5 separate regions of the Homo sapiens genome follow, and all the other regions are reported to be linked to region 1. The links are microRNA targets in miRTarBase. Many come from high-throughput screens and were not tested one by one. Region 1 holds a microRNA gene; each other region holds the end of a gene's coding sequence.

Evidence for each region. Region 1 holds the annotated microRNA hsa-miR-148a-3p (UCAGUGCACUACAGAACUUUGU, at 3,698-3,719, shown strand). A microRNA usually pairs through its seed, bases 2 to 8, with sites in the 3' UTR of a target mRNA and lowers its output. Matches are read on the target gene's strand: a 7mer-m8 pairs with bases 2 to 8, a 7mer-A1 pairs with bases 2 to 7 and ends in A, and an 8mer does both.
Region 2: the mRNA of SLC12A7 is a reported target of hsa-miR-148a-3p. Seed matches in the 3' UTR shown: 7mer-A1 at 2,812-2,818, 7mer-A1 at 2,519-2,525, 8mer at 2,461-2,468 and 7mer-A1 at 2,173-2,179.
Region 3: the mRNA of BMP3 is a reported target of hsa-miR-148a-3p. Seed matches in the 3' UTR shown: 7mer-m8 at 4,564-4,570.
Region 4: the mRNA of WAPL is a reported target of hsa-miR-148a-3p. Seed matches in the 3' UTR shown: 7mer-A1 at 4,002-4,008.
Region 5: miRTarBase lists MRPS27 as a target of hsa-miR-148a-3p. Seed matches in the 3' UTR shown: 7mer-m8 at 2,269-2,275 and 7mer-m8 at 2,344-2,350.

What each region holds. Positions count from the first base shown.
Region 1 is chr7:25,947,787-25,953,640 of GRCh38, reverse strand. MIR148A (microRNA 148a) reads left to right here and starts at 3,655; the gene lies at 3,655-3,722. The region is part of intron 6 of LOC105375199 (a long non-coding RNA gene); the gene reads left to right. RefSeq lists silencers at 1,882-2,091, 2,212-2,431, 2,562-2,701 and an enhancer at 5,545-5,614.
Region 2 is chr5:1,049,016-1,054,664 of GRCh38, forward strand. SLC12A7 (solute carrier family 12 member 7) reads right to left here. Exons shown (of 24, transcript NM_006598.3): 23 at 4,334-4,467; 24 at 1,369-3,436. The coding sequence ends at 3,345. Among named protein-coding and RNA genes, the nearest start is that of MIR4635, 11 kb to the right of the region's middle.
Region 3 is chr4:81,052,337-81,058,190 of GRCh38, reverse strand. It overlaps BMP3 (bone morphogenetic protein 3), which reads right to left. Exons shown (of 3, transcript NM_001201.5): 3 at 564-4,846. The coding sequence ends at 4,655. Among named protein-coding and RNA genes, the nearest start is that of BMP3, 25 kb to the right of the region's middle.
Region 4 is chr10:86,434,036-86,439,633 of GRCh38, reverse strand. WAPL (WAPL cohesin release factor) reads left to right here. Exons shown (of 19, transcript NM_015045.5): 18 at 1,619-1,714; 19 at 2,026-4,378. The coding sequence ends at 2,091. Among named protein-coding and RNA genes, the nearest start is that of GRID1, 70 kb to the right of the region's middle. RefSeq lists a silencer at 1,328-1,622.
Region 5 is chr5:72,216,543-72,222,396 of GRCh38, reverse strand. It overlaps MRPS27 (mitochondrial ribosomal protein S27), which reads left to right. Exons shown (of 11, transcript NM_015084.3): 11 at 1,249-2,994. The coding sequence ends at 1,488. Among named protein-coding and RNA genes, the nearest start is that of MIR4803, 50 kb to the right of the region's middle.

The sequences.
Region 1 (5,854 bases):
TTCTGTAACACCTTTGGTATTAAGCTATTTTTCTTATCCATGGTACACACTCAATCGTATTTTTGTTTTTGAAGGTTTTAGCTATAACACTATTTCTTCTGTAGACTCATAGGTGTTAGAGCAAGAAGGTATTTAGAGGTGATTTAGTCTAATCCTTTAAATCACAGGTAAATTCCCTGAGGCCCAGAGTGGTGAACTGACTCACTAAAAGCTCTCCTTACAGGGGTGCTTGGTGAGAACGCACCTTCCTGACTCCAAGGCCAGCTATCTTTCCACATCTGCTGCAAATGTCATGAGGCTAGCCCCCAAGTTGGGACCATTATTAATTTTTCCCCTCAAGTCATGCGAAACATCTCTTGTCCTTTTAATCAGAAGCATATTTTAGGGGCTGCGGAATAATAAGCACCCACATATCCAGTATTAAAAGATAAACTCTGGCCCTTTCCTGGAGTGAGCCTGTTTTCATTTTATCATTGTGAAATGTGGTAGGATTGATGGCAGACAATAACTCCCCACCTCCCCCAGTATTTTATTAAGATCCGTTCTTACAAAGGATAACCGGAGGTTTTCCATCATCACCTCGTTGTCTTTTTTCTAACTTGGTTCGTCTGCTACCCAACAGTAGTAAGGTTACCTCATCCTGGAATCTGATGTACACAACGGTATGCAAACTCTTTCCTTCTCTCCGAAGCAAACAATGAAATGGGAAAACACTGCCATTTTCTGACTGACCTCAATCGCTGAGGGTGGACCCCGCACGTTACATCAGCAGGCTGGCTCCATTACACTGCCCTGCGCTGTGCTCGAGCTACTGAAATATTGATTTTTACAGAGCCGGCGCACACACACTGAAAAATCAATATTCCAGTGCACACAACAGAACAGGCAGCAGAGCGGGGACAAACTCCGAGCCCCAGCAAGCACTGCCGCCGGGCCTTGACCGAGGAGGGGGTGGGGGGCTGGAGGAGACAATGCCTGGGGAGAGGCCCCTGCAAACCCGCGAATGGTCAGATAAACAAACAAGTGTGGAGAGGGAAGAGAAAGGAGAGTGGAGAGAAAGATCCTTGAGGATAAAACAGTTGGAAGGAGCAATGATTTATCTTTCCATAGGGGGAAATGGGGAGAAGGAAAGTAAATTAAGAAGAGTGGATGGGAAGAATTTTCCAGGTAAGAATCTTCCCATAAAAATGTATGTTTTTCTGTATCACCAGGTCAGACTTCAGATGCAACCATTATAAAGATGATACACATACTTTGTTACCTGAGGGAAAAAATAACTAGGCCAGTTCTCAGAAATATTTATATTTTTTAAAATGCAGTCCCCTTCTTTTTCCTTGGTGACTACAGGCCGGCATCAGAGAGTCCGATTTATAACATGGGCTCTACCTTTGCAATGCAGTTACTTTCTTTTCCTTGGGGAGAGGGAAGGAAGGAAGACATCCTGGTCACGTGGCCATTCATCAATTTCCCTTTCTTTCTAGAACAGCATCTTCTTTGGCGTGCTTGGGGAACCACGTTAAAATTGATTCTACGTGCCCGTGACCTCTTCTCAGGGAATTCTGAGCTCCCCCGAGTCACACCCCCATCTAGATGAGGAGAGGAGGACGTGTCCCCTGGTTCAGTCTCGGGTGCCCAGTACCCAGCAGACGTCAGGGTGGAGGCAAACCGGCCTTTCGGTTAGTCCTTGTAGACGTGTTAAAAAAAAAAATCCAGAACTGGCATTTTTACTACTTTTAGTTAGCTCTTTGGCCTCTTTTTATTTGGGGATGGGTGGTGGGCAGTTTATTAAAAGAAACGACTTTTAACCTTGATGAATTCTTGATTTTGCTTTGTCCTAGAATTCCCTTACCGGGAATCTCGCATTTAGTTCTCAACTCCCTGCCAGGGGAGGAAACTGTCCTCCCGAGGTTTCCATTTCGCACTCTGCCCTGCAGCAGCTTCGCCGCCGCCTCCTCCCCAGCCAGGAGACACCGGGCCCAGGCAGGGCTCCGGCTGGGTTTGGAGGAGGGGGCTCCGGGGAAAGCGGGCATTCAGGGGCATCTTGCAAAACGCGGGCTCCCTGGGCCCAGCGGGGCTGGCCGGGGACAGCGCCCGGCCCGAGTGTCGCGGGAAGCGGAACAGGCAGCCTGGCAGAGGCTGGTGGGCAGAAGGGCGGGGCGGGACGTCGAGCCAGGTGGCCACCTGGAGCGCCCCGCCCTCCCAGCGCCGGCCGCGCCCCCGCCCCCGCCCCCACGCGCCACCGCCCACCCCGCCCCCGCCCCCAGCCCCGCGCGGCCGCTCTATTTGCATAAGGAGGCGTCTCCCGGGCCCGCCCGGGGCGCACGTGACCCCGGGGGAGGCGGAGGGAACCTGCTGACTTGACACGAGCCGCTGTGCGGCTCCCCTTGGCGCGGAATAGCGAGAGCAGCCGTGACCTCCGACCCCGCCCGCCGGCAGCCAATAAGAGCGCAGGTCGTCTCCAAACCCAAAATTTCCACGTCGGCAAAAGTCAAGATGGAAGGGAGCGGAGCGGAGCGCGAGGGGGGAGCCGGCCCGGGAATGCCTGGCGGCCGGCGCTGGAGGGGCAGGCTGGGGAGCCTGCGGCGGGCGCACGAGGGGCCACTCGCGAAGGTGTCCCGGCCCAGCGCGACCACCGCCCCCAACCCCGGGAGCCTCTGGGCGCCCCGCACTCCGCCAGCCGCCCGTGCACCCCGGCCCGGGGGACGCAGCCCACTGCCCCTCCGGCCTTGTCTCTTAGGGGTGGCGGGGGATGGAACGGTGGCGAGGGGTTTGGGGGAAGATGGGAAAGCACTTTCCAGACCTGTTGCACGCGCGCAACAGCTGTTCAGGTGCGGTATGTGGGGGGAGGGGGTCTGCTAGGATGGGGGACAGAGTGGTCGCTTATGCTGCAGGGAAAAGGGGGTGCCGGGAGGGGGAGAAGAGCAGTCTTGGGGACTGTGTGCAAGGTTGTGCGCGAACGGGGTCCGCGGGAAGCACTGCCTAATGGGGCAGGGAGAATCCCAAAGAGTGGGTGGGTGGAACGGAGGGGATGGGACGACTTCGACCCGAGTTCCCGGGGCTGGGCGCGGGCGGCTGGAAGACCGGGAATAGAGTACTGGGAATGGCTGGGGAAGGGGGTCTCAGGGGAGGCCCCGCAAAGCGGGTCTTTCTTGGGTCGTCCCATCTTAGGGGCTTTTCCCGGGCCTGTATTTGTTCCCCACCGTTTAACTCTTTCAGCTCCGAATATTCGTCCTCGTGCAGCGCCCCCGCCCCCAGCTTTCCAGATGGGAAGGTAAAAAGTTGCCACAAGTTAGAGTGAGTTAGCTGCTGGCAAAAGTTTAAATAACTACCGAGGGAGGTGAGGGTTCGACCAGGAATGGGTTCTAATCTGAGGACGGGTAGGAAGGAAGGAGAGTGTGCGATTCTTGCAGCCCCTTTGCTGTGACATTGCGACCAGAATTTGTCGAATCGGGCTGTTAAAACACCATTTCTGTTGGGCATTTGCTCCTGCTGACTGCGGCAGTAACTTTCCATAATTAATGACCCGTTCCATTATCGGTCGCATCCTGAACTAAATTGCTTTTAACGAGTTATTCTTCTTTGTCTTAGCTGGGGGGTGGGGGAACACACCTGCAGGAAGAAACTTCTGGAGGAAGACAGCACGTTTGGTCTTTTGAGGCAAAGTTCTGAGACACTCCGACTCTGAGTATGATAGAAGTCAGTGCACTACAGAACTTTGTCTCTAGAGGCTGTGGTCGCCGATGCCGCCAGTGCTCCAGACGCCAGGCCGAGTGGCCCTGGTGGCCACGTCGCTGCGCCTTTCCCTTGGGGGAGGGGCAAGGCCAGAGGGGGTCCAAGTGCAGCACGAGGAACTTGACCAATTCCCTTGAAGCGGGTGGGTTAAACCCTGTAAATGGGAACAAAATCCCCCCAAATCTCTTCATCTTACCCTGGTGGACTCCTGACTGTAGAATTTTTTGGTTTAAAGAAGAAAAAAATAAAGCTTTGGACTTTTCAAGGTTGCTTAACAGGTACTGAAAGACTGGCCTCACTTAAACTGAGCCAGGAGAGCTGCAGATTTATTAATGGGTGTGTTAGTGTGCAGTGCCTTGCAGGAATTTAAACTCTCTACCCTTAAAGAAGGAAATGTATTTGTACAAAAGCCACAGATAATGGTCCTTTTACTCAAGCGACCTGCTGGATAAATGACAGCCTGCAGGGATTGAGTTTGGAGATCTAGTCTCAATTCTGCTTCCGATTTAGATGCAGTTCACTTTTGTTTTTTAAAGTAAGTTTTATTAATGGAAAGGAAGAACTTTTTCCAAGAAAGCATTTTGAAAGCCACTGGGGGAGGGGGACATTTATGCTTTTGGGCTGTGGAGATCCTTTAGGTGGAGAGACTGCTCTCTCATCCCTAGTGGAATGGAGGTTTGGGTTGGTGAGTTTCTATCAATAGCCTGCTCTCTATAGTGGGTCAGTGACTGGCACCAAATTGTAGTCCTGTTCCATGGACATTGCCCTGTTTTGGTTTTATGAGCTTTTGGCCAGGCACAGGACGCAGGGTGGTAGGGAAAAAAGGAAATGGTTCCTGTGCCCGTGGTGCTGACAGGTAAGGGAAGGGCCTTCTGATGTATTTTATGGGATGCTTCAGAAACCTGGGGGTTGCTTGTGTCTCTGGGAAGCCCTTGGTAAAGAAAGCCACCATTTTTTTTACTTAGGTATATTCCAGTGGTTTATCATCGGGAGAGGGATGATAATGGAGGAAGGCTCAATGAGGGAGAAAGTATTCAGCTGCTTGATGTTAGAGCTTAATGGCAGGACCTACCAGTTGCTTTTCACAGAAATGCTGTGTATTGATCCTAAGGCAGCATGTGTTCTCTTTTGTGTGGCCATTATCCATTCTCCCACTTTTCCATCAGTGACTGCTTTGCTTTTGTTCCTCAATCCTTTACCCAAAAATGGCTGAATTATTTCTGTGCAGTTAAATAAAGTGATCCAAACTCAAGTACGTCTTGTGTTCATTTGAGATGTAAGGTATGCTTACTTGAGGAAGAGGATTCTCTTTCCTAGTTCTTATGTCTGTACATCTCCACAAGATAGTCTGAATATACTGAATTTTAAGAAAACTTAAATCAACTTTGTAAGAGAATGGGAGGTAAAGAGTGGAGCGGTTGACTGGGAGAGTAGTCATCCATACAAAGGAATTAGGTCAGGATCTCTCACCTCCAGAGAAAGGCAAGGTTTGGAGTCCCTGACATGATTCAGTCTGGTTTGACTTCTATGCTTAAGTGATTTGCATTTCTCCTGTTTGTGACCACAAGTGAGTTAAGGACTAACCAAGCAGGAGGGCTGTGGTTTACTCTGGTGCTAAGGATGCCAGGAATAGGAACTGGGAAAATCGGCAGTCTTGGGGTGCTTACTGTAAACCTGGCATGGTCTCATAGACCTCAGTCGTTTAGCAATCAGTGTATTTTCACCTCCCGAGCATCAGGTGTTACTCTAGACGTTACGAATGCAACAGTGAACAAAATAGGCCCCGAACCCTGCCCTCTTGGAGGTCTTTCTCATGCAAGAGGTAGACAATACAAATATAAAATAATCAGAAGGGTGATAAACGTCAGGGAAGGAAGAACAAGGAACGCTGGGGAGGCCGTGGTGTTCATTTAACCCAGATCGCTGGGCAAAGGAAACCATCACTAGCAACCTACTTTGCATGGCCTTGGCACTCCTGTCTTTATTTTAGATACTTTATGTGAATGAACCAAACAGGTGCAGCTGAAACTTTAGTCATGCATTGCTTAATGATGAGGATAGGTTCTGAGAAACGTGGTGTTAGGCGATTTCATTGTTTTTGCAAACATCACAGAGTGAGTGT
Region 2 (5,649 bases), not on the chromosome of region 1:
CCCGTGCTCTGAGTCCCGGGTGTGGATGCCTGGGTGCAGCCAGCACTCACCCCTCGGGGGTCCGAGGACGACGCTGCTCTCACGGTCACTCTCCTGTGACCCGAGAGCCAGAGCAGGACCCGCCACCCTCCTGTGCCGTGTCCCTTCCTGTCCACCATGTGTCAGGCCCACTGGACACGGTGCCCGGCAGCTTCACACACACAATTCGCCCTTCGTCGTGCACGAGGCAGTGTTCCAGCATGTTCAGTCACATAAGCTTCACCACAGCCATTTCGGAACATTTTCACCCAAAAAGAAATCCATACCCTGTAAGCAGCCTCCCCCCATCCCCCATCTCCCCCCATTCCCCTTGACCCACCCCCAGCACCCGCCAGTGCACCCCCTGCCTCTGTGCCTGGCCCACTCTGGCATTTCGTGTTAAGTGCAGTCCCACAGCGTGAGACCCTTTGTGTCTAGCTTCCTCCCGAGCGTGAGGCTTCCAAGCTTGGCTCCTGGTTCTAGCTGAGAGGCCTGCAGCAGGCACGGCCCACATGGACTCAGCATGTTCTCGGGCTGCATCCATTTTGGCTGCTGTGAACTTGCGTGCACCCGTTCCTGAGGCTGTGCCACACACCAGGAGTGGACCTGCCGGGGAAGGGGCGGCTCTGTCTCTCACACTTTCAGGAACCACAGGCCCTTCCCGTGCAGCTACAACCCTGCAAGAGGGGTCCGATTCCGCACGTCCTCCCCGCGATTCTCTGGTTTTGGCTGTGACCATCACAGGTGTGAGTTGGCATCTCACGAGTTAGAACACGCTGTCCCCACTCATGGCGGACTCTCTGGTGCCTCCATCCTTATATAAATTAAATTATAAATCGAATGGCCGGGCATGGTGGCTCATACCTGTAATCCCAGCACTTTAGGAGGCTGAGGCAGGCAGATCACTTGAGGTCAGTTCGAGACCAGCCTGGCCAACATGGTGAAACCCCATCTCTACTAAAATACAAAAATTAGCTGGGCGTGGTGGTACACGCCTGTGATCCCAGCTATTCGGGAGGCTGAGGCAGGAAAATAGCTTGAACCTGGGAGGCGGAGGTTGCAGTGAGCTGAGGTGACGCCACTGCATTCCAGCCTAGGCAACAGAGACTGTCTCAGAAATACAGAGATTGGGTCACTTCAACACACAGCACTAGGAAGTTTGGGGTAAGGTCATTTCCAAGCCGATGACATGATTTGGAAGCCCTCGTCCAATTCATATGGTCACTCTTCAGCCACCTGAGTTGGCTGTGGCTGGTCAGCCCTGACGCTCCTGCTAGAAAAGGGGCGGCCAGTACATTTTCTCCAGCTGTCTTTCATGCTGAATGAGACTCAAGAGATTCTTCAACGTACTCAGATTTCATAGGATTTTATTTTTCTACTAACACAGACAGACAGGGAAACCTACAAAAGGAAACGGAGTCAATTGTAAATGGCTGTAGTTACTGGTTACACGGAGTTGACAACACAAAGGATGCCTGGTGCTTGCGTGCAGAGGCTGCAGCCCAGGGCGGGGGCAGAGCTGAGCCCTCAGGAGGTGGTTTCGTGTGCAGAACTGAGCGGCCCTCAGAAGCAGGGCTGTTTTCCAGCCACCAACCAACGTTCAGAGCCAGCACCATGTGGCCGCTGTGCCTCTAGCCTGCTCTCCTCCAGGTGCAGGGGACACAGGACCTGCCGGCCCCATCCAGACATGGAGGAGCGTTTTGCTGCTTAACTCATGCTTAGCCAAGGCAGGCAGAGGCTGTGGGAACTGCTGAGCCCCGCTGTGATGTCTGGGACACGCTCTGGGCAGCAGCCGTCACTCTACAGCAATGCCAGCCCTAGTCTGGCTCCTCAGAAACATCTGGGGGCACAAGTGCAGCCTCTGCCCCGATTTGAACTTTGTTGATGGGGCTGATTCCCTTGGGAGACCATGCAAGCCAGACGTAGCCCAAGGCCTGGCCATCTGGGGCCTCTAGTATATAGAAGCAACCTCTTTATGGACAACCTTGTTACCACGTAACTCCCTGGGGTGTTTAAATAAATAAATATGCCACATAGAAAGGGAGGCCCAAGTCGGTGCCACTGCCCGCAGCCTGCAAATGTGACCACAACCTACAAAGCAGAAACTCACAGCCAGCCGAAGTGCAAAGTGTTGGGCCCTTGAAAGCTATCTCTTCAGTGCCACCGCCGCCTCCATGCAAGGCACAGGCCATGGCAGGGGACGCCCGGGACTCAGCCAGACAGACCTGACACCAGGCGCCACTGCTGCCTGAGGACCTCCCACGTCGGGTCCGTGTCCTCCTTCCCTGGAGCACCGGGGTGGGGATGGCACGTGTGAGCCAGCTCAGAGGCTGAACTGTGTGCCGTGCTCCTGGGGTGGGGTGGGGTGGGGAGGGCAGTCCTGGCTGTCGTGGGCTGTCGGGGGAACTCACTGTTCACTCTGCGCGCGTGTGCCCCTGGGTTTCAGTGCATTTGCCTGCGTGAGGCACTGATCGCACCTGTGGCTGTGGGCTGGGCCCTGTCAGTGCTTATGAAAAGAAGTGGCTGGTTTTCTAAAGGTGGATGGAGACTCGGACAGCTGCAAACACAGCCCGGCATGGCAGAGCCACAGCTGGGGGCCCCTTCCCGGAGCGTAGGCCCTGATGAACTGAACGTGTTCACCACACACCCGACAGATGATCCACCACGTTCTGGAAAAGCCGAGTTCCCTTTCCAGATGGCCCTGGCCCACGCCTCAGCTCATGAAATGTGGACCTGCCGAGCCCAGAGGCTCCCACACGAGGGTGACACGGGCATGGACAGAGTCCTCCAGCTTCAGTGCCTTGAGGTACAGAAACACAAAGACAGTCAAGGAACAGAGTGACTCGGAGGTGACCGGGGCCCTGAGCGGAGCCATGGCCAGGGCTGACGTTTCACCTTCATCATCAGGGACAGCTTCAGCTCCGGGTGCTCTTCCAAGAATGTTCTGGATGGGGTAGAAATGCAACCTAACCACTGGGTAAATCCAGCCAAGGAAAAGAACTTCCAGAAACCAAGGCAAGGGCTCACTGGCTTCTTGTGACCTGCGAGAAGATCTGGCCACGTCCAGGTCACTCCGGTAGCAGCGTCTGCCCTCAGATGCAAGGAAATCGTCCAGCCACGCCCTGATTTGCTGAGCCTGTTAAGGCTGAACAGGAGAGCCCTAGGTGACGGGCCTAGAAACTTCCGTAGGAAGCCCCATGGGCAGCTTGGGCGGCATCACTGGGGGACAGGTGTGTCTGCCGTCTGTTTCCCTGGGCCAAGCCCAGGCCCAGGCTGCCCACGCCGTCCTCCGTGCCTGTCCCAGAGTGCCGTGATGCTGTTGGGCATTAGGAGTAGATGGTGATCACCTCCCGGCCGCCACCCCTGACCAGGAGGACTCTGTTCAGCCCCTCGGTCAGGACTTCAAGAAACTCCATGTCTGTGGTCAACAGAGTTAAGGCCACAGCTGATCTTACCTGAGCGTGTGTAGCTGAAATCGTGATAGGAGTGAGGTTTATCCTCTCCTGGTTAGCTAAGATTTGGTTTGAGAAACCCAGAGCCAAGGTGAAAAGAGAGGTGGGGATTAGAGAGACCCCCCAGGCGGGGAGGAGCAGGGCAGGGGAGAGAGGGGCCAGTGCTCGGGAAAGAGAGGGAGCACCGTGGCCACAGGGAGGACGAGCAGAGACAGCGACACAGCCCACGGTGCTGACCCCACCCGACAGGGAACCCCAGCCACGGGACTGGGTCCTCACCAGCCTACAGGGGACCTGGGCCACGGATTCCGATCAGGACGCATGGAGGACATGCCCTCACTGGCCCCAGTTCTTGGTGCCAACCTGGCAGGGATGTGCCAGGCGTCACCCTGTCTGTGCCAATACGCCCAGATGCACTGCGGAGTTCTCCTTCCAAAGCACAAATTCCCAAAGCTGCGACCAATTGTGGCCTTAAAGCCGAGAGCTGGGCTCCTCACCTCCCACCGTTGTCGGCGCAGGGTGGGGCTGAGCCCCAGCGGAGGTCCCAGAATGCACAGCTGCTGTGGGGATGCATGACAGGGAGCCTCCCAGCCCCAGGGCAGCCCTGAGCACCTGGGGACAGTGGGGCTGGTACTGTAGGCGGGCCCTCCCTCCCCCACACCAATGCCAGGGCTGGCCCCAACTCTGGCCCGGTCACCACTGGGCTCAGAGCCCCACTGCATCCCGGTCGTAGCTCCCAGAGCCTGGGGCTGAAGGAGAGGCGGGAAGCCAGCCTCACTCCCAGCACCCACAAACCCAGGTCTTAGCGAGAAGCCACCAGGGGGTGCCCGCACGCTCAGCAGGCACACTGCAAGAAAGGATACAGTTCTCGTCTCCCTGCCGGTTTTTGGGAGGACCTGGCATGTTGAGCAGGACCAGCTGCGCATCCTGGGACTTGTTGAGGACGACGCCATTGAGCTTCACAGCCGTGTGCATCCGCCTGACGTTGGACTGGTCCCTGCAGGGGAGGTGGGCACGGTCAGCGGGCGGCGGGTGCACCCCACGCTCCGGACACGAGGCTGAGCTGAGCCCTGATGAGCTGCATTCACACGTGTTGGAAAGGGCTGTGTGAGTCAGGATCAGGCGGATTCTCTGACCCTGAAGGATGCAGAAGTGGCGGCTCCGAGCGAAAGGCGCTGACTGCAGCCAGGGCGGGCGTTCAGCAGCGGGATGCTTTGGCCTCCAGGGACCTAGAACTCAGCCCACTAAGGCTGCCAAGCTTCTAAGGGCTACAGTCACACAACACAAACCGCAAGCGCTTTCCTAACTACATCTACATCTGCAAAGCAGGCAGAACAGTGGAAGCCGTCTGGGTGGCCCATGTGCCTGACGCCTTCAAGGCTGACACGCTTCTCTTGACATCTACATCATCGCCCCTAAACCCCACGTCAGACACTGCCAAACACAGACCCGTCAGGCTGGGCACACATGGCCTCCTCTCCGAGGGTCCTGATACAACTGGGTCCAAGGGGCCGGAAGCTCAGGAAGGAAAGGCCCAGAGTCCCCCACACCGGCCTGTGCAGCCGTTGCTGCTGAAGCTCCCAGGCCTGACAAGGACAGGGTATGCCGAGGACTCAGCTGGAGGCACAGGCCCTCAGTGGCCACTACTGGGTCCCCTCCTACGGCCCACCCTGCCCCTGTCTGGCCAAGGGCTAAAGGACAAGCACTTCCACCGTGTGGCCGTCCAGCCCCCGCCTTCCGTCCTCACAACGCAGCTCTGCTCCACGACCCTCCCTGTCTGCTCTCTGAAGCTGCTGTGGCCGGTCCATGTCTCAAAGCGTCCCTGGCGGCCTGGGCCCGGCCACAGCCCCACAGGAGGCTCCCCAACCAAGTAGGTTTGGGGACACTGCAGAATCATGCTGTGAGGTGCTCAGGCCCTTGCGGGACAGAGCTTATCTCCCTCCTCTACCCCACGGTCCCCTCCTAGGCAGGCCCCTAAACTGCAGCAGAACTGGCGTTCCAGGAGGCCACCTGGGGAAACGCTGGGCGGAGGGGAGCACTTGCGTTTCTGTGTTGGAAAAACCCGGCCCGTGTGTGGACTTGAAAGTCGGAGCGGGTCTCAGGCCAGCTGCAGCCGTGCGGTCGTGACTGTGGCCCCCTGGGGGAGGTCACCAGCGCCCTGGACGCAGAGGGGCGGCGG
Region 3 (5,854 bases), not on the chromosome of region 1:
CCTAAGAAGCAGAAAGTTTATTGTCCCATTTTATAAGTAAGATAAATGAGGCACTGAGAAGTTAAGGAACTTGTTCAAGATGATCTTTAAAATTTCCTTGTAGTTCCAAAATGCAAACATACACAGTGTTACAAAGATGGATTAAAATAATAAAAATAATATAAAAGCATATTTTATTTCTTAATTTCAGGTCATTTTTTTTCCTTAAAGAAAAAACTATGGCCTAAACAAAAAATGGCTAGAATATATCTCAATGATAAGATTAATTAAATTTAGATAGTTATCATTCTAAAAGAACAGGACATGGTAAGAATGATAGATGAAATAAAGTTATTGTCAAAATAGTGAGTCAGACATCCAGAAAGAAACAAAAGTCTCCAACTATAAAATGTGGAGTTTTTGGTTAAAAAAGAAAAGAAAATATGAAACAATTTAAGTTGAGTTTCTCAAGCTTGAAAGATATATTTTTCCTGATGGGTATATTTCAATCTTGTTTTACAACGATAATCATGTTATGTTAAGAGTAAGTTACGATGCTCCATTTAGAATACCATTTGAAAATGTTCAACTCTATGCTTAAGCTTTATTACCTCTTTTAAATGCAGCACACTTGAAAATGTCTGGAAATATAGTATTTCCCAATAAGTAAAAATGAATGGTCAATGAAGCAATTTTTATTTCCATACTGTATAATGAATAGCTTTTCATTACTGAAAGAAAATGATACAAATTCAACAAAGCTTATACATTGGTAGTGAAGTATCCTTCACAGTTTCACTGCAATATACCCTCTAAGTGGATTTGACTAAAGAACCAAACTGCATTTTGCATCTAAAAACTGTAGTAAAAAGGAATTTTTCTTGCTAAAAGTATTATCATAATTAAGGATGAAAATTATTATTATAGGAAGGCAATAGTCATTAAATAAATTAAAAGCATCTTTGAACCTTTTCCATATACATATATTATATATATATATATATTTAAAATTGCCATTGACTGTACAAGTATTAAACATTTACAGAAACTGTGGAAAGCTGAAGGGAAGGACTGGCTTTTAGAAAACAAGGATCATTTTATCACTTATAAACTACATTAAAATACAACTCAGAGGAAAAAAGAGCTATACAGAAAAGTCCAACTTACCCAAGATTTCTTATTTAATCTCTTCTTTAATCTTACACATCAGGTGTGCATAGCTATGCCTAACCCAACTTTGATTCAATAAGAAGTCAATGCCCAGACATTAGTTACTTGTTAGCACAGAGAAAAGTGAAAGCAGAAAGACTAAACTGAAAAACTAAACTGAATGAATTATACAAATATTTTTAATAAATCAGACTCTTAGCAGTATTACTCACATTTGATTGCCTATGAAAATATTAAATGGGCAATAAGAGTTTTATTCAGAAATATTAAGGTAAAAAATCTTAACATATAAATGATCATCAGTTAATATACAGCAAAGGGAATGTAAAAATTTATCTGGAATGTTATAGTCCTGAGATCTGAGGAATCCAGTCTTCCAGTTTAAGTTCTACAATCCCAAATCCTGTAAATTGTATATTATTTACACAGGTTACAACAAAGTATTTTTAAAATATTCTAATTGACTTTGGCAGTCCCTTAATTTGAATTCAAGAGAACAGTTATTGAGAAAAAGAATTCTTTTTATCAAATAAAAAAATTAGCCAGGCATGGTGGCGGACACCTGTAATCCCAGCTACTCAGGAGGCTGAGGCAGGAGAACTGCTTGAACCTGGGAGGTGGAGGTTGCAGTGGGCCGAGATCACGCCACTGCACTCCAGCCTGGGCGACAAGAGTGAAACTCCATTTAAAAAAAAAAAGAAAAAGAATTATTTTTTTCAGTAACTGACTGTGTGTGTGTGTGTGTGCACACTGCATGGGGTAGAGAGATTACTTGTGGGGGAAGAGAGAGAGAGAGTATTATGCATGATTTAGCAAATGGAGTTTATAATTGTAGCTTCTCTTTTCATGAATGCCAATTTAATAATTTAATATCAGGAGATTTCTAAAGCTTCTGTGTAGGAATTATACAGAAACTAGTACCTAACAATTTGTAAAACAGGCACTTACTAAATTTTCTAACTACTCTTAGTAAATCTGTATTAATTAAAATATTAATACATTTACTTCAATCTCTACTACTGAAAGATAATCTTGCTTTATTCTTTGGGAATAAAACTCTTCCAATTTAAACCATAATACATCCTCAATTCATTAGTAAAATGATAGTTACAAAGCACCCAGAAAAACTGCTGGTTAAAACCTATTTCCATTGCTAAGAGATTACCCAAGTTCTTTCATTGTGTTGTAATTTTATATCAATTGCTACTTAAAATATAATCTTAACTAGTTAGTACCTGTAAATTTTATTATGTAGTGGGTTTTTGGCCATTGTGGGGTGCAATCTGTAATAACTAGGCATTGATTCAAATTAAGAAAGGTAATAAACAGGCATTTGGATATAAGAAGGCTAAGAAGTGATACTGGGAATTGCCAGAAGTTTTGGTTGATACAGCTCTAGAAAAAAACCTAAATTTAGAATTTCACCAAATCTACCAATGAAAAAGTTTTCTTTATTGAAAAACAGTACGATCAGGATGGTGGCCACACTCTGGCCCCCTTCTATCATATACTTTTATTTTCAAATGTTTGAGAACATGTATTAAAAAGTAATTTTATCCTCCATCTCACTTTGAATCTTTAATTTTATGCTACTGTAAGAACTAGAAGAAAGCATGGTAACTCAGGCACCAGAACTTCACTCATTTTTTTTAGAACTGGTGTGTCTCACTCACAGAATTAACACACACCCACACCAACATTTGTGTACCCCAAGGTGTCAAAGAGCTTCTTTTCATGAGTTATTCTTTTAATGGGTTTGCAATAAAATACCACTTAAACCAAAGCGAATGCCATACTAATTTACAAACAGCGAAGTATAGGATGTTCTTTCATTTAGTTTATTAAAAGAGGGACTTACAGTGTTTTTATATCTATCACTATCATTCCTTCAAGGAAGACGGGTGTGAAATAGCTGGAATTATAAACTTAACCCTTCCAGCTCATGGCCAGCCTCTTCATTTTACCAGTGAGGACACTAAAGACACACAGGTAACACAGTGCCTTTCACAAAATAGATGCTCAAAACATATTTATTAAATGACTGAACCACCATAATTAGCTACAGGCAGAGACAGAACAAACTCCACGTCTTCTGATACTGCACAGCCTCCAAAATGGCTGAGATATTTCTAAGTATCAGATAAGACGGAACTAAAATGAGGATTAACCACAGATTAACACCAACAATGATCTACGGCCTGAAAGCATTTCCATCACACAAATAAATATAGTGAGAAGAAGGATATTGAAATAATTTTGAAGACTAAAGTTATAAGAGGACACATATATGTATGTGACACATAGAAATGGAAAGCAAAGACAAACAAGTGTCTATATTTGATTCCCATACCTGACGAATAATGTTTTGTAAGCTTTGCTAACTTGTAGATTTCGTGACTGAGCCAAAAGCCCTGATCTATGTGAAAAAGTGCCTGACTTAGATGTGACTGAAGAATGATATTCAATATTTGGTTATGGTTAAATTGGTCATTTAAGAAGATCTTCAATATTCTACCAGTTTTTGGGCCTCAACATCTACCAATAACTTCATAGGAAGTAAAGGCATATCAGGAGAATTAAAGAGTTAATGGCTTTAGGAAGGATTTTTAAATTCAATTTAGAATAAATAAAAGCATTTGTGAAAAAGAAGTACAAAAGAGGAATTACACTTGTGTTTTCAAAAACTAGGTTTCTGATTCCTTTTTCTGGTAGGAAATGAAATGAAAACAACTGTATTTGCAATTAAATAGCTGGGTCAAGTGGTAACTCTCTGTATATGCTCTTGAATTATTCTATCATATTTGGCAAAGTTCTTATAACTGAATGGTGTTTGCCAAAATACAAAATTAAAAAAAATAAAGAATCCTGTGTAAACTGAATTATAAAACCATATTAAGCAAACCATCCTACAGAGGGCACAGGCACCTGGCGCATGTACGCACATACATACACACTAACGCTCAGCATAAACTTTCCATTACACTTAGACAATGACTTGTGGAGGAAAAACAAGGATAAACAAGAGTCTCAAGAACTTAAGAAAAACATCAGAGTTGATTATTTAGCACTTTCTCAGGATTCTAAGGCAATAAGCCTAATTCAAAACGCGAAATTGTTCTCTATTTCCCATTAGTCATTAAATGAGATAAATGACAAGCTATTGCTGCTTCTCCATTCTGTTTTCAAAGAACATTACAAAAATAAACCAGTGTGTTCTCTAACAGTTCTAAAAACAGTTTGATAAGTTGTTGTGTTTGATTACAAAAAGAGAAATAGATGTCCATATTTACTAAAAATCTTGCTTTAAGTTACATTCAGAAACAAATACAGTTCTTTTCCTTGGTGGCAATCTTCAGTCTATTTGCTCATTCCCCTCTGACTATAGAAATAATCTTTTGAAACAAAATGCATTGGCAGTGCAAAAAAAAAAAAAAAAAAAACAGGAAGAAGTCCATAAAAATAAACTAATGATTGAATTAAGCATTCAAATGAGTTCTTTGCCAGGTTATCTGCAAGCGCAAGACTCTACTGTCATGTTAGGGTATACTTTAAGCACTACATTCTTATTTTCATCAAAGAATAAAATACTGAGTGAGGACATCTTTTCTGGTACACAGCAAGGCTCAGGAATCCCAGGAACGACCCCCACAGCTCTCACTATACTCTGGATGGTAGCATGATTTGATGGCTTCAAAGACTAGAGAAAGAAATGAAAGAAGAACACATATGTTAGGTGGAACTGCGTTTCCACTCCTCAGTCCTCATTACACAAAATGCTTATCTAATGAATTTGTTTCAACAATTTAATAAAACCTCTGGCATCATTATACATTAAGCCCAATCGCCTATCCCACCACTACCAAAATGGTTATTATTTATTAAGTGCCTGCTGCATTCCAGGCATATTATATGTAGTATCTCTAATTCTCACAACAAAGCTAACATTTCTTACATTTTACAAAGGCTCAAAAAGCTTAAACGACTTATCTAAGTTCAAATAGCTTGTAAATGGTAGAGGATTTAAACCAAGTTATCTCAGCAAGAATCATTTAATTACAAACAACTTAGCCCCCAAACATGGAATTAATACACTCTACGGTGTTTTCAATAACAGGATTGAAACAAAAAATGATTCGTTATTGACCCTACATTAATCAAAATCCTAACAAGCACTCTATTTAACAGAGATACATTATTGCCACTGCTATATTGATATTTAGGCATTGTTGTTAAAATAAAACCAAGCAGGTCAGAGGGGTATTGATTTATTTAATTTAATAGTTGCCAAGATGGATTGGATGGTTACTATTCCACTATGTAATTATTCAACTCTCCTTAGAAGTACAAACTGGGGGGTAAGAAGACCACACCATTGGCCACTGGGGGTCACTGTTGCTCCACTGGTTTAGAATTAGGCATGGAGTTGTGTTCTAAGAGTGGGCCACGTCCTCTGGGAATTCCCTCTGGGAATTATGAGGGCCTAAAGTTATCCTATGGATACCAGAACTTTCACCAAAGAAGCCTGAGTAAGAATCTTTTCCCTGAGAAAATGCCAAATGGGACCACTAACATTCATGTGAAGCATGTGGTTTTATTTAGAGAACCCCATACAGCTCTGCTCTAGCTAAAAGTACTAAAGGAACAGTCATTTTTGCAAGTCCAGAATGTTAGGTATTGCCAGAGTGGTAAGAACTTCCTAAGAGAT
Region 4 (5,598 bases), not on the chromosome of region 1:
TCCAAACCTACTGGACACTTTTAAAATTTTTCAAATAGGCCATGCTGTATCATGCCTTTTCTTTTTGTACCTGCTATATTCTGTTAAAAAATGCTGTCACTGTCCCTCCCATTGCCTCAGAAACGCTGTATGTCATGTTCTGTAGTGTGTTGATAGAGAAGGGTTTGATTTGGATTAATGAGGGGCTTTCATCCAAAATATAGGAGCTAATCATATATTCTCTATTACAGAGGCGTACTTTTCTACTGAGCAGTTCTCCAGAGACACCTTAGCCACTATTTTGCCCACCACTGTGATAGCTTTTGGTGGGAGGATCAGTTTGAATGTGTGTAACTGATATCTTCAGCACATGAGTACTTTAGCAGTGTTTTGATTAGATCTTTTCTGAAGCTGTATTCATCTCATTTTTTTGCTGCTTTCTAATTTTGCGAGTACCCTGGCATGGGAATAGGAAAAAGGGGGTGGGTAGTGGCAAATTTCTGAAGAGAAATATGTCATCTCTCCTTTTTTGCCCCCGCTAACAAAAGTCGAATTGGGAGCTTTTGTGTGTTTTCTTTTTGTTTTTTGGTTGGTTTTGTTTAACCCTTTACCTTGTGTCCCCAAACTTGGGACAGTATACTTTCTTTTGCCCCTTACTACAGGTGAACCTTCCTAAAAGATTTTTTCTTTTTATTCTCCGTAAAACATTTAAAGCATTCTTTAATGAAATAGTTTTTTAAGCAGGTTGTGTAATGTTTTCCATGTAACAGATTGGTTTATATATAGTTTGGCTGCTTCTTGCTAATAATGAAGGGTTTTCTCTCCTGATATTGTCTGAGAATCTATCATAGATGAGGTTAGATTGCCTTTGGAAAGATGCTTCTAGTTAATTCCTGTCCTATATAATTAGTTGAATTCATCTGTGAAGGATGTGAATTTTTCTTTGATCTTTTTATTTCATGAGCAGCTTTGTGAGTACATTCTCAGGTCTAAAGTCCTCACCCTCTTCTCCTATTCCCCCAGGGCCCCCAGTGAAACACACACATACATTAAACAGTGCAGTTTGTTATTTCAGGCCTTTTTCTTTGCATTTATGAAAGTAGGTCGGCATGCTGCCTCACACCTGTAATTCCAGCACTTTGGGAGGCCAAGGTGCGTGGATTACTTGAGCCCAGGAGCTCGAGACCAGCCTGGCCAACATGATGAAACCACGTCTCTGCTAAAAATACAAAAATTAGCCAGGCATGGTGGCACGTGCCTTTAATCCCGGCTACCCGGGAGGCTGAGGCATGGGAATCACTTGAACCCAGGAGGTAGAGGTTGCAGTGAGCTGAGATTACACCACTGCACTCCAGCCTGGGTAACAGAGTGACTGTTTCATTTAAAAAAAAAAAAAAAAAAGTAAATGTGTACACAAATATTTCTTTGTAGCTTTTGCCAACTTTACCTTTCTCCTTTCTTTCTGAGGGTGAGGTAGGAAATCACATGCAGAGTGAGTGTGGAAAGAGAATAAATAACCACGTGTTCCAAGGATCTTAAAAATTTGCACCAAGATGTGTGTCAAAACCAACAACATTGTACGAGGTGCAATCTCATGTTTTCTGCCAGCTGACCAATATTTCTTGCTCTGTTTCCTCAGATCAATGTAACCACTGTGCGGGAATATCTGCCAGAAGGAGACTTTTCAATAATGACAGAGATGCTCAAAAAATTTTTGAGTTTTATGAATCTCACTGTAAGTAGCTTTTATTACAGCTTATATGATTTTAAATTTATAATACATTGACAGTAGACATAAAAATACTATGGCCATAGTAAGTGGGAGCAAAAAGGGATTTTCTTTTAATTTTAATAATCGTGTTCTATTTCTTCAAGGTAATCATTGCATGTTATGGCAAATAACTTTATCAAACCCACAATTTAATCTCGGTGTACTTTGATTTGTAGTGTTCAGTTTAGTAAATCTAGAGGTAAACTTTTATTTATACTTCTTAAAATCTGTTAAATATTAACTGTTACTTCCTTTCCCCTTCACCCTGCTTTCAGTGTGCTGTTGGAACAACTGGCCAGAAATCTATCTCTAGAGTGATTGAATATTTGGAACATTGCTAGCTGCTTTACCTTTGCTTCAGGTGCTCGGTAATGCTGGAGCTATCCTTAGACAAAGAAAAGTCAAGTCATGAAAGAAGTCCTTGAAGATATACCAAGAACATTCATCAGTATCATTCGTGTTTGGATTTTTAAGGCCACCTGATTTCTTCGTCATGCATTCGGCATTTGCTAAATGACAGTTACTACATCAATCTGCAACTATCAAAAATGAGGGGAAAAGGTTCAGGCTGTTAACAATTCCATGCAGTATTTAAATACATTTACTTTGGCAGAGTTTATACCCTCCCCTTGTTTTCTTGCTTTATTCTGGGCAAGTTTGAAGGGGAAAATTTGTGCTGCTGTTAGTGCAACTGCTGTGTATGTTGAGCCACTGTTGTCATGCCAGCCAGGTGCAAAGGCAGCTTAGCTACTGAGGTAGCGAATGTTCTGAGGACATTCTAGACAACAGCTTAGTTCCTTTTTCAGGCTCATTTGCTTTTGCTTTTTTGTTGAATGATTCCAATCGTAAATAAAGCTTTTAATAATTTTGTGAATTTTTTGGTTGTTGTTCCCTGAACTACTGTCTATATTTAAAATTAGATGGAATCCAAAGATACACGGGATTAATAGTATATTTTTTTATTCTTGATTAGGTTTGGGTTATTGAACTATTTTTTACTTTTGAGACCACAACCATATTCAATATCATACCATAATGTGTCATAGCTATAGGCACAAGAAAAACAACAGTTTGAGAGAATATTATATAAGATGATGTGCCCTGTTAAAAGGAGGAGGCAAAATAGTCAAACCCAGGGTAGTTTACACTTAATGCTAGGGAGGCTCTTAAAACATTATTAGATTTTGAGGAAAGACTCTCTAGATATATTTTCTAATGTTCAGTACAATAAATATAAGGAAGCTAAAACACCAATGTGGAATTCCTGTTTCCAGATAACATGTATATTCTTCTATAGAGTGACAGGATCAATTGCATAAGCGCAAAGCCTTAAATTGCTGGTTTAGAGAAGACCCTTTTTTCATTCAGATTCTTTGTTCGTAGAGCAGTTATTTGAAAAACAGTTATGGAACACAAAACATTTTATAGATTTAATATCATAACATTGCAAATTTTTCTTGTATTATTCACACCACTGGTTATACTTTTTTTTTTCCTTTTTTATTGATTGGGCCTGAATACAGGCTTTCTAGAGATCTTTTTCATTAATACTTTTAAATACCTTTCAGGTAGTTACATCATGTTTCTTCATTGGATTTGTAAAACTTGAAGCCATAAAAATATTAGTTTGGTGTGTATTGGGGAAAATAGCTAAAAGTCTAATTTTTACCCATTTAGACTTTGTTATTTCCTTGTATAAAGTGACAAATCGGGGCTCTTGTATCAGTGCCAGCTGTAATGTTTTTAAATGCAGTGGCTGCCTTCTATTGTCTTCCTATTTTTGATAATGCAGATTGTTGGGAAATCTGTAAGGAAGTAACTGATTCCAGGCAAATTGTTTTCTTCCTTCTACCCACCCCAACCCCTACCCATCACCTTTTAAGAACATAGTACGCCAGTGTAACGTGGGAACCATTGAGATTGTATTTGCCCTGAGTATTAAAGCTAGCTTAGCAAAATACTTTTAAAAACATATTGGTAAATGATACCCGTAAAATTAAATTAGTTATATTTTATTTTAAAATGCAAAATACATTGATATTTATTAATCATTGGATTTAGGGAAAGGGACAGATTTTTGGTGAACCTGACTTGTGGCAGATGGTAAGGAATATTATAAAACATTTGGATGAGAACAATCAGGGCGAACTGCATTTTTCTGTTACACTGGTAATCATTTGAAAATTGATTTACCTCAGTGTTTAACAGTTTTTTGTTTTGTTTTGTTTTTTAAATAATAACTAATTGTCGAGCACTGATAGAGATGCAGATTTTGGTGGGGGGAGGTGGTGGGGGAGATAATCACTTCACCAACTGCAGTGCATTTGTGTGTTTTTAACCCTCAGAGAACTCTGCATTTTAGGGTACTTGAGGCTGACTTAACTAAAAGTTTTAAAGTAACCTTTTTTCCATTGTAAATATTTCTGTAAATACTACCAATTGGAAATTAGAACAGTAGAGTACTTTTCTGAATCCAATCCTATTTTTATTTTATACAGTATTTCTCAGCTGTGATCTTTGGAGCAAAAGCCAACGGCAGGAAAAAATAGTTTGTACCAGTTTCATGAAGTATGTCTTTGGGTTTTTGTAAATAATTTTAACTCAAATAAAATTGCTACTTTCAATACACATGTTGTCTTTAACATAAGTCTATTGGAGGACAGAAGTGTCACAAACTTTATATATAGCCGACTCTAATGGGAAATACACTATCACTTAACACATTTAACCAGTTTTTGTTAAATATTTTATTATTTCTCCATGTTTTTAATAATACTCATCTGAATATAATGTGAACTCAACAACTCAGGCCAATTAGGGACTGGATTTTCAGTTAGGCCCTTGGCATACTTAACTGTTTTGATTTAGGTTATTTTTTGCTCCTATGAGTATGATCCAAGACATCTTTGCTTCTGAGGTTTTACACTGCTTTTTAGTTTTTCAGTTTTCTTCTTAATTGTCAGCCCTTAGGCATCCTGCATTTACAAGTAGATTCCTCAACTTCTCCTTACTGCTTTTAGCCACAAAACTAGATTGAAGGATCTCTCCTGGGAGTTTCCATTACTCTCCCCACTTAAACATGAGTAAGAGTGGTTTCAGGATGCAGGCTATGGATATAGAAAGACAAATCACACAGAAAATTTGAATCCTTTTTCTGATACATGCTTATTGACTTTGAGTAAATTCTTGAACCATTAAGCCCGTTTCCTCAAAACAGGAAAAACAGGGATAGTACCTACCTCATGGTTGTGAAAAGTAAGTACATGTGAAGCATTAGCACAATATTCTAAACTTAGGATGGCTGGGCACAGTGGCTCACACCTGTAATCCCACCACTTTGGGAGGCTGAGGCGGGCAGATCACTTGAGGTCAGGAGTTCAAGACCAGTCTGGCCAACATGGTGAAACCGGTCTCTAATAAAAATACAAAAATTGGCCAGGTGTAGTGACACACACTTGTAATCCCAGCTACTTGGGAGGCTGAGGCAGGAGAATTGCTTGAACTCAGGAGGCGGAGGTTGCACTGAGCTGAGATTGTACACTGCACTCCAACCTGGGAAACACAGCAAGATGCCATCTGAAAAAATAAATAAAAATAAGTAACCTTAATTTGGCAATGGTAGCTTTTATCGTTTCACTATTTTGTATCAGGAAGGTGAAATATTCTAAACAACAATGGAGTAGCATATTGTTATATTACTGAGGTCAGTGGGGCTTGGGTTACTTTAACGGCAATTCTACAATTGCTGTTTTCAAATTGATCTTGTTAATATTAATGACTAATAAACGAGGGAATTGAACAAACTTCAGTAATCATTAAAGTATTTTAAGCATGGGGTTGGGGCGCGT
Region 5 (5,854 bases), not on the chromosome of region 1:
GCAAGAGCTCTGGATGCTAGAGACTACCTTTCTCATGTTAGATGACAGCAAAGCTGAGAAAAACTAGCCCAGAGTGACTGACTTTAGGTTTGAACAAAAGTTTGCCAACTCGTAGTTTAGTCCTCATTCTGGTGTCCCAAGCTGTCTTGTTGGCCTCAAACCCCACATGGAGAGCGTTGTCAGAGAGAGATCATTTTCGTTTTACATTTCCTTTTCTTCCTGTTGCCTGATTTTTATTAGTCAGAGGTCATTTGTTTGGGAGCCATTTTTATATGATTGACTCTCACACTAGGCCTCTGGCCCCTCCTGGAGCCTAGGCACCCTGCCCACCCCCAACCCTGTTAAGCAAGCCTCCTTTCCTGTGCCAATGAGTGGCATTTGTTTGTGGAACATGGGGATGTGTGGTATAAGCTACAGCTGGCCCCGTAAGTGGCCCTCTCTCTAATGAGAGAGTACATCTTAAAGTACTTAAATAGATTAATGTTTTTAATACTTACTTCTCCAGGAGCACAACACCAACCAAACCAAGGTGCCATTTCAGATGGAGCTGTAAGCAGGCAATACATAAAGACTGACCTGCAGTCTTAGAGTTCCTAAGACCCAATGCAGTGGAGCACAGCAGGCAGACGCTTCTAACGGTGCAGGCACTCAGGGGAGCTATTCCTTGAACTGATTTCCGTCTGTTGAGAGGAATGCCAGAAAGGCAAATACTTGTTTCAGTTATTCCGAAGGCACATGTATGGTTGGGCTTGCTCCAGTTATCAGATGCCTCTGCCATTTTGTTTGCATATTAGAATTCTTATTTTTGGTGTTTGCTGCTTGGTTTGGTTAGGTCAGGGTGGAAACATAGATTTGTTAGAGGCTGGCTGTCTTTGTGGTTTAAAACAAGAAATTACACAGGGAGACACAGCATATGGAGTTCCATTTACTGTTTTTGAGTGAAAGGGGAGAAATCACATGTGGTGCATCTTAGCAAAATTGCTGAGCTGAAAAAAATAACCACAGCTAACAGCACCTGAATGAAAGGCAGCATGACCATTTCCCAACAAAATGGTTTTTTTCTACCAGCAAAATGTGTGGTTATTTTGCAGGTGACTTCATTCTGGGCCACTAGAATGAGGACTAAACTACGAGTCAGCAAACTTTTGTTCAAATCTAAAGTCAGTCACTCAGGGCTAGTTTTTCCTCTTTGTATCTTTCTCTCACTTCTCTACCTTTCTTCTCATTTTTCCCATTTGTTTCCAACAGGCCTTACATTCTAAGCTTCAAGCTCTGGGCAAAATTGAGTCAGAAGGTCTTTTAAGTCTGACCACCCAGCTTGTCAAGGAAAAACTCTCCACCTGTGAAGCAGAGGACATCGCCACCTATGAGCAGAATCTGCAGCAGTGGCATCTAGACCTTGTACAGTTGATCCAGAGAGAACAGCAACAGAGGGAGCAAGCGAAGCAGGAGTACCAGGCTCAGAAAGCAGCAAAGGCATCTGCCTAATAGGGTCCCCCAGGGCCCCACCTGTCTCACAAGAACTTCACTCAACCCCGTGCCAGGACTCAGCAGTGGCCTGGACAACAGCCTCAGCTTCCTCTACCCATCTTCTTTTCTTAAAGCAGGCTATGTGCCCTACATGGCAAGGCACCATGACTGCCCATCGAGATGCCAAGAAGGGCTATGGAACTATGCAGGTGGCTAGTGGTCAGACTGAAGTCACCAGCTGAATACCTTAAGGAGGACTCTTGAGGCTCATAATGGAGTTCCTGGGGCACAGGGATTAGTTATGAGCATTAAAGTTCCTAAGACCCAGTGACAGTACTGGGAGAAACCAAGGCTGAAGAGTCAGGTTGAAGCACAGGCTTTTGTTTTTTGTTGTTTTTGTTTTTTGAGACAGAGTCTCATTCTGTCACCCAGGCTGGAGTGCAGTGGCGCAATCTTGGCTCACTGCAACCTCCGACTCCCAGGTTCAAGCAATTCTCCTGCCTCGGCCTCCTTTAGTAGGTGGGATTACAGGTGCATACCACCACACCTTTCTAATTTTTGCATTTTTAGTAGAGATGGGGTTTCACCATGTTGGTCAGGCTGGTCTCAACCTCCTGACCTCAAGTGATCTGCCCGCCTCAGCCTCCCAAAGTGCTGGGATGATAGGCGTGAGCCACCACACCCGGCCAAGCACAGGCTTTTGAATGGTCTCCCTCTCCCCAGCCCAGGTACATGAGGCCAAGGTGAACTGTGCATCCTGAGACCTTGTGTCCCTGAGTCTCCTTTCTGAGTGCAAGCTGCACTGTGAGCTGGCTGTGGGATACTCACACATTCCCACATTCTCCTTTCTGCCACATCTCGCCCTTCTGGACCTGCACTGGGAGAAATTCAGGACAGGAGTGAACTCAAGGCCATGAACTCACTGGATTTCCATTTTTAGGCACCCATAGGGATGTTTTTAGGATGTAAGTTTCTGAGGAGAAAGCTAGCTCTAGCATGAAGCTTTTTTGGATTGGCTTCTCCATCGTGTTGGGGTAACATTTTTTTTCCAATTTTTTTTTTCCCAAAACATCGTCTCAGCTCATTTATCAAGTAGGTAAAATGAGCCTTTTGTGTACACACAGAGGCACATGTGCATGCACACACAACTTGTGAACACACATTTCTGTTAAAGAAGTTAGAAAATGAGAGATGGGTTGGGGCTTGAAGTGCATCAGAGGTATGAATGTTGTAAAACTGTCAGGAGATGTAAAATTCCTTTCTGAAGTGTCTCTTCTGTGAAAGGGTTCAGAGCAGATTTTGCTTACTATGTAGTGTTGCCCTTAAGTACAGTGGTGTAATTTTATTCAAGATTGTGCTCTTCTATCAAAAGCCTCTGGAAATAAATGTTCCGGGATCATGTTAGTGTACTCTTTATCTTTGGGGAAAGGGAGGAGGGAGAGGGACTCATTATTGTTACTATGATTTTGAGGAGTGTACTTTAAACCCTCCCCCATTAAACTATGGGATTTATTGTAATAATGATAACTGCCACCACTAATATTTATTAAGGACTTAACTGTAGGCTGAAAACCCAAGCAGCCCTATGAGGGAGGTACCAGTGTCCCCATTTTATGAAACAAAGCAGCTCTCCTGCTGCTCCTCTCCCTGCCTGTGGCCTCCATATAGAACCGCAGTAGTCAGGATCCAACACAGGGCCCTTTAGACTAGCAAAGCTGCTGAATCTTACTTAGGTAGAGGGCCGTGACCAAAAGTCAGTTCCAACATTTTGGTTTACCAACAACAGGAGTTTTTCAGCCACTCTCTCATTACATTAAGAGGAACATTCAACACAAACAAAAGGGCAACTTTTGCCCAGTAAATTAATGACTGTCACAACATGAAGTATCTGGTTAAGGCTTTGGCTCATCGTTTTGCCTTCATTTTTCCTCCCTCTCCAGCCCCAATGTACTTTACTTCTCTTCTTCACCAAAAGAGACCACTTCTGCCACTGTACTGTGGTCCCACAGGAATTTCCATGTTCCCTCCTCCTCAGGATTCCTTCCACACTTGTGCCCCATTTCTCAGGACTCTTGGAGTCTTTCCCCTCCAAATATTCTGCCCTTTCCCCATGTCCTTATCTCCTGAGCTATAGGATACTCTCCTGCCTTCCTTCACAATTGGCTCTTCCCAATACAGTTGTCCTTTGTCCCTTTCCCTGATGTCATCTTCCATATTTCTTCCATGTGGATGGAGAAACTGCTCTTGGTGCCCTGGCCTCTGGAGGTTACCTCAACTGGATCATCTCCCAGTAACAAATTACCTTCTGCAGCTGACCTGCCATAGTCACAGCCAAACCTCCAGCCTCATCACGAATCCGAGATCTTAGATCCTGAAGTCCCCACTCTCCCAGGCTCGTCTCGTACCATGACTGCTGCTGAACCAACTTGCTCTGTAATTTCCTGCCTGCTAATCCTTAGCCTTTACCCCATCACCCAAACTCTTGGTCTCCAGAATCTGCTTCTCTTCCAGTGTGGGCCCCATGGTCAGCCATCCCCATGTTCTCATTAGCATCTTCATTTTCTCTCACTCCCTTTATCTAGGCTCACTTGCCAGCCTTCGACCTACATCCTTGCACCCATCTATTATGGGTAGAATTGTGTTCCCTAAAAAAGGTAAGTTGTATCCCTAATCCCCAGTCCCTTAGAATCTGACCTTAGTTGGAAATAAGTTTGTACTGAGGTAATCAAATATAGAGTGAGATCATCAGGGTCAGCCTGATCCAATTTGGTGTTTTTTTAAAAGGGGAAATTTGCACACACAGACTCACAGAGGGAAGATGAGCATGTGACCGTACAGGCCCAGGAACACCAAGGCTTGCCAGCAAACACCAGAAGTTAGAAGGGGTAAGGACGCTTCTCCCCTAGAGCCGTCAGAGAAAGCTTGGCCCTGCAGACACCTTGATTTCTGAGTTCTAGCCTTCAGAACTGTTATTTTAAGCCACACCATTTTTGGTACTTTGTTACTGCAGCCCTAGGAAACTGATAACACCACCATTCATTTTCTCTTTGGTTCTGACTTACTAAGTGTAGATATATAAAGTCATAATATTAGGCTGATTAGATTCTTCTACAAAATTATGGCTGTTCTCTTCAACTCAATAGTCCTTCCTTTAATTGACTCTCATTTTTGCTTCCATAGCTTTTCTGTTCTGCGTTAGCTCGAAGCCCTGCCCTCAGAACTACAAGCAGATGTTCTCTCCATCATCCTTCCTACTTTCAAATAATAGGTATCCCCTCCCTCCTTTCAAAGCTTAGGCTCTTCATTTGTGACCTTGGCCCATACCTGCCCACCTGTTCTACACATTCAAGCATTCCCTTTCCGTCTTATAGCATCTCTGTTGATTTCTTCTTCTAAGTCTACAGTCTTATTCAAGACCTTATTCAACACTTTTTAACAGCAAAAAATCCTTTACCCTGCCATCAGTCAAGCTGTCATGCTATGTCTCCTTCCTTATGTCTCCAAACTTCTTGAAAGGGTATCTACACTTACTGGCTCATTGTTCATTCATTAGAGGCTGAGAATTTGGCTTATAGCTTTACCACTCTGCTGCACAACATGGTCATCAACTACAGTGATCTTTTTTTTTTTTTTTCCTTTTAAATGCTCTGCTCCATTTGGTACCACTGACCACCCCTTATAAGCTTGCTGTCTGCAGCAGACTTACTGTCTGTTCCAGCACTGCTTTCGCAAGCTCTCAAGTGTTCGGTGTATACTGTGTACAAGGCACTATACAAGTGCTATGGAGTTTACAAGGATGAATAAACTATAGATTTTACCCTCAAATAACTTAGATTCTAGTGAGGCTGGCACATCCACACCCGTCAATACACAGCTGAAAGGTGTCGTTAGACAAACAGTTAATGTATGTGGGAGTTCACAGGAAGATCACTTTAAGCCCAGTGATGGGAAAAACTCTAATGAAGGGAATTAATTGCCTGCTTTGTGCATTAATTAGTCACATATGAGTGCCTCAAGCTGCCCTGGGGTCCTCTTTCCACAGAGGCTTGTGTGATGTGTTCATGAGAAAATACTTTAAATTAAGCTAAAATGAACAATTCAGATTAAACTTGTTTTGGCCCACATCCCATACTTACCTTGGCCATAAAAAGGAAAAAAAAGCAAGGCGGTGGAAAGAAGAAAAGAAAGAAAAATGATAAGGTATTATCCTCCCCTCAGTGCTGTGTTGCCTTGGCACCCAGCCTTGCATCCTGTTTTCCGACCTTCTCGTTGGCTGTGGAATCAGGTAGGTGTGTGAGAAGATTGGTTTAGATTCTACAAGAAGTAGTCAGAGGCCTTGAAAATAAGTTGATTATACCACAGTGGCTCACACCTGTAATCCCAG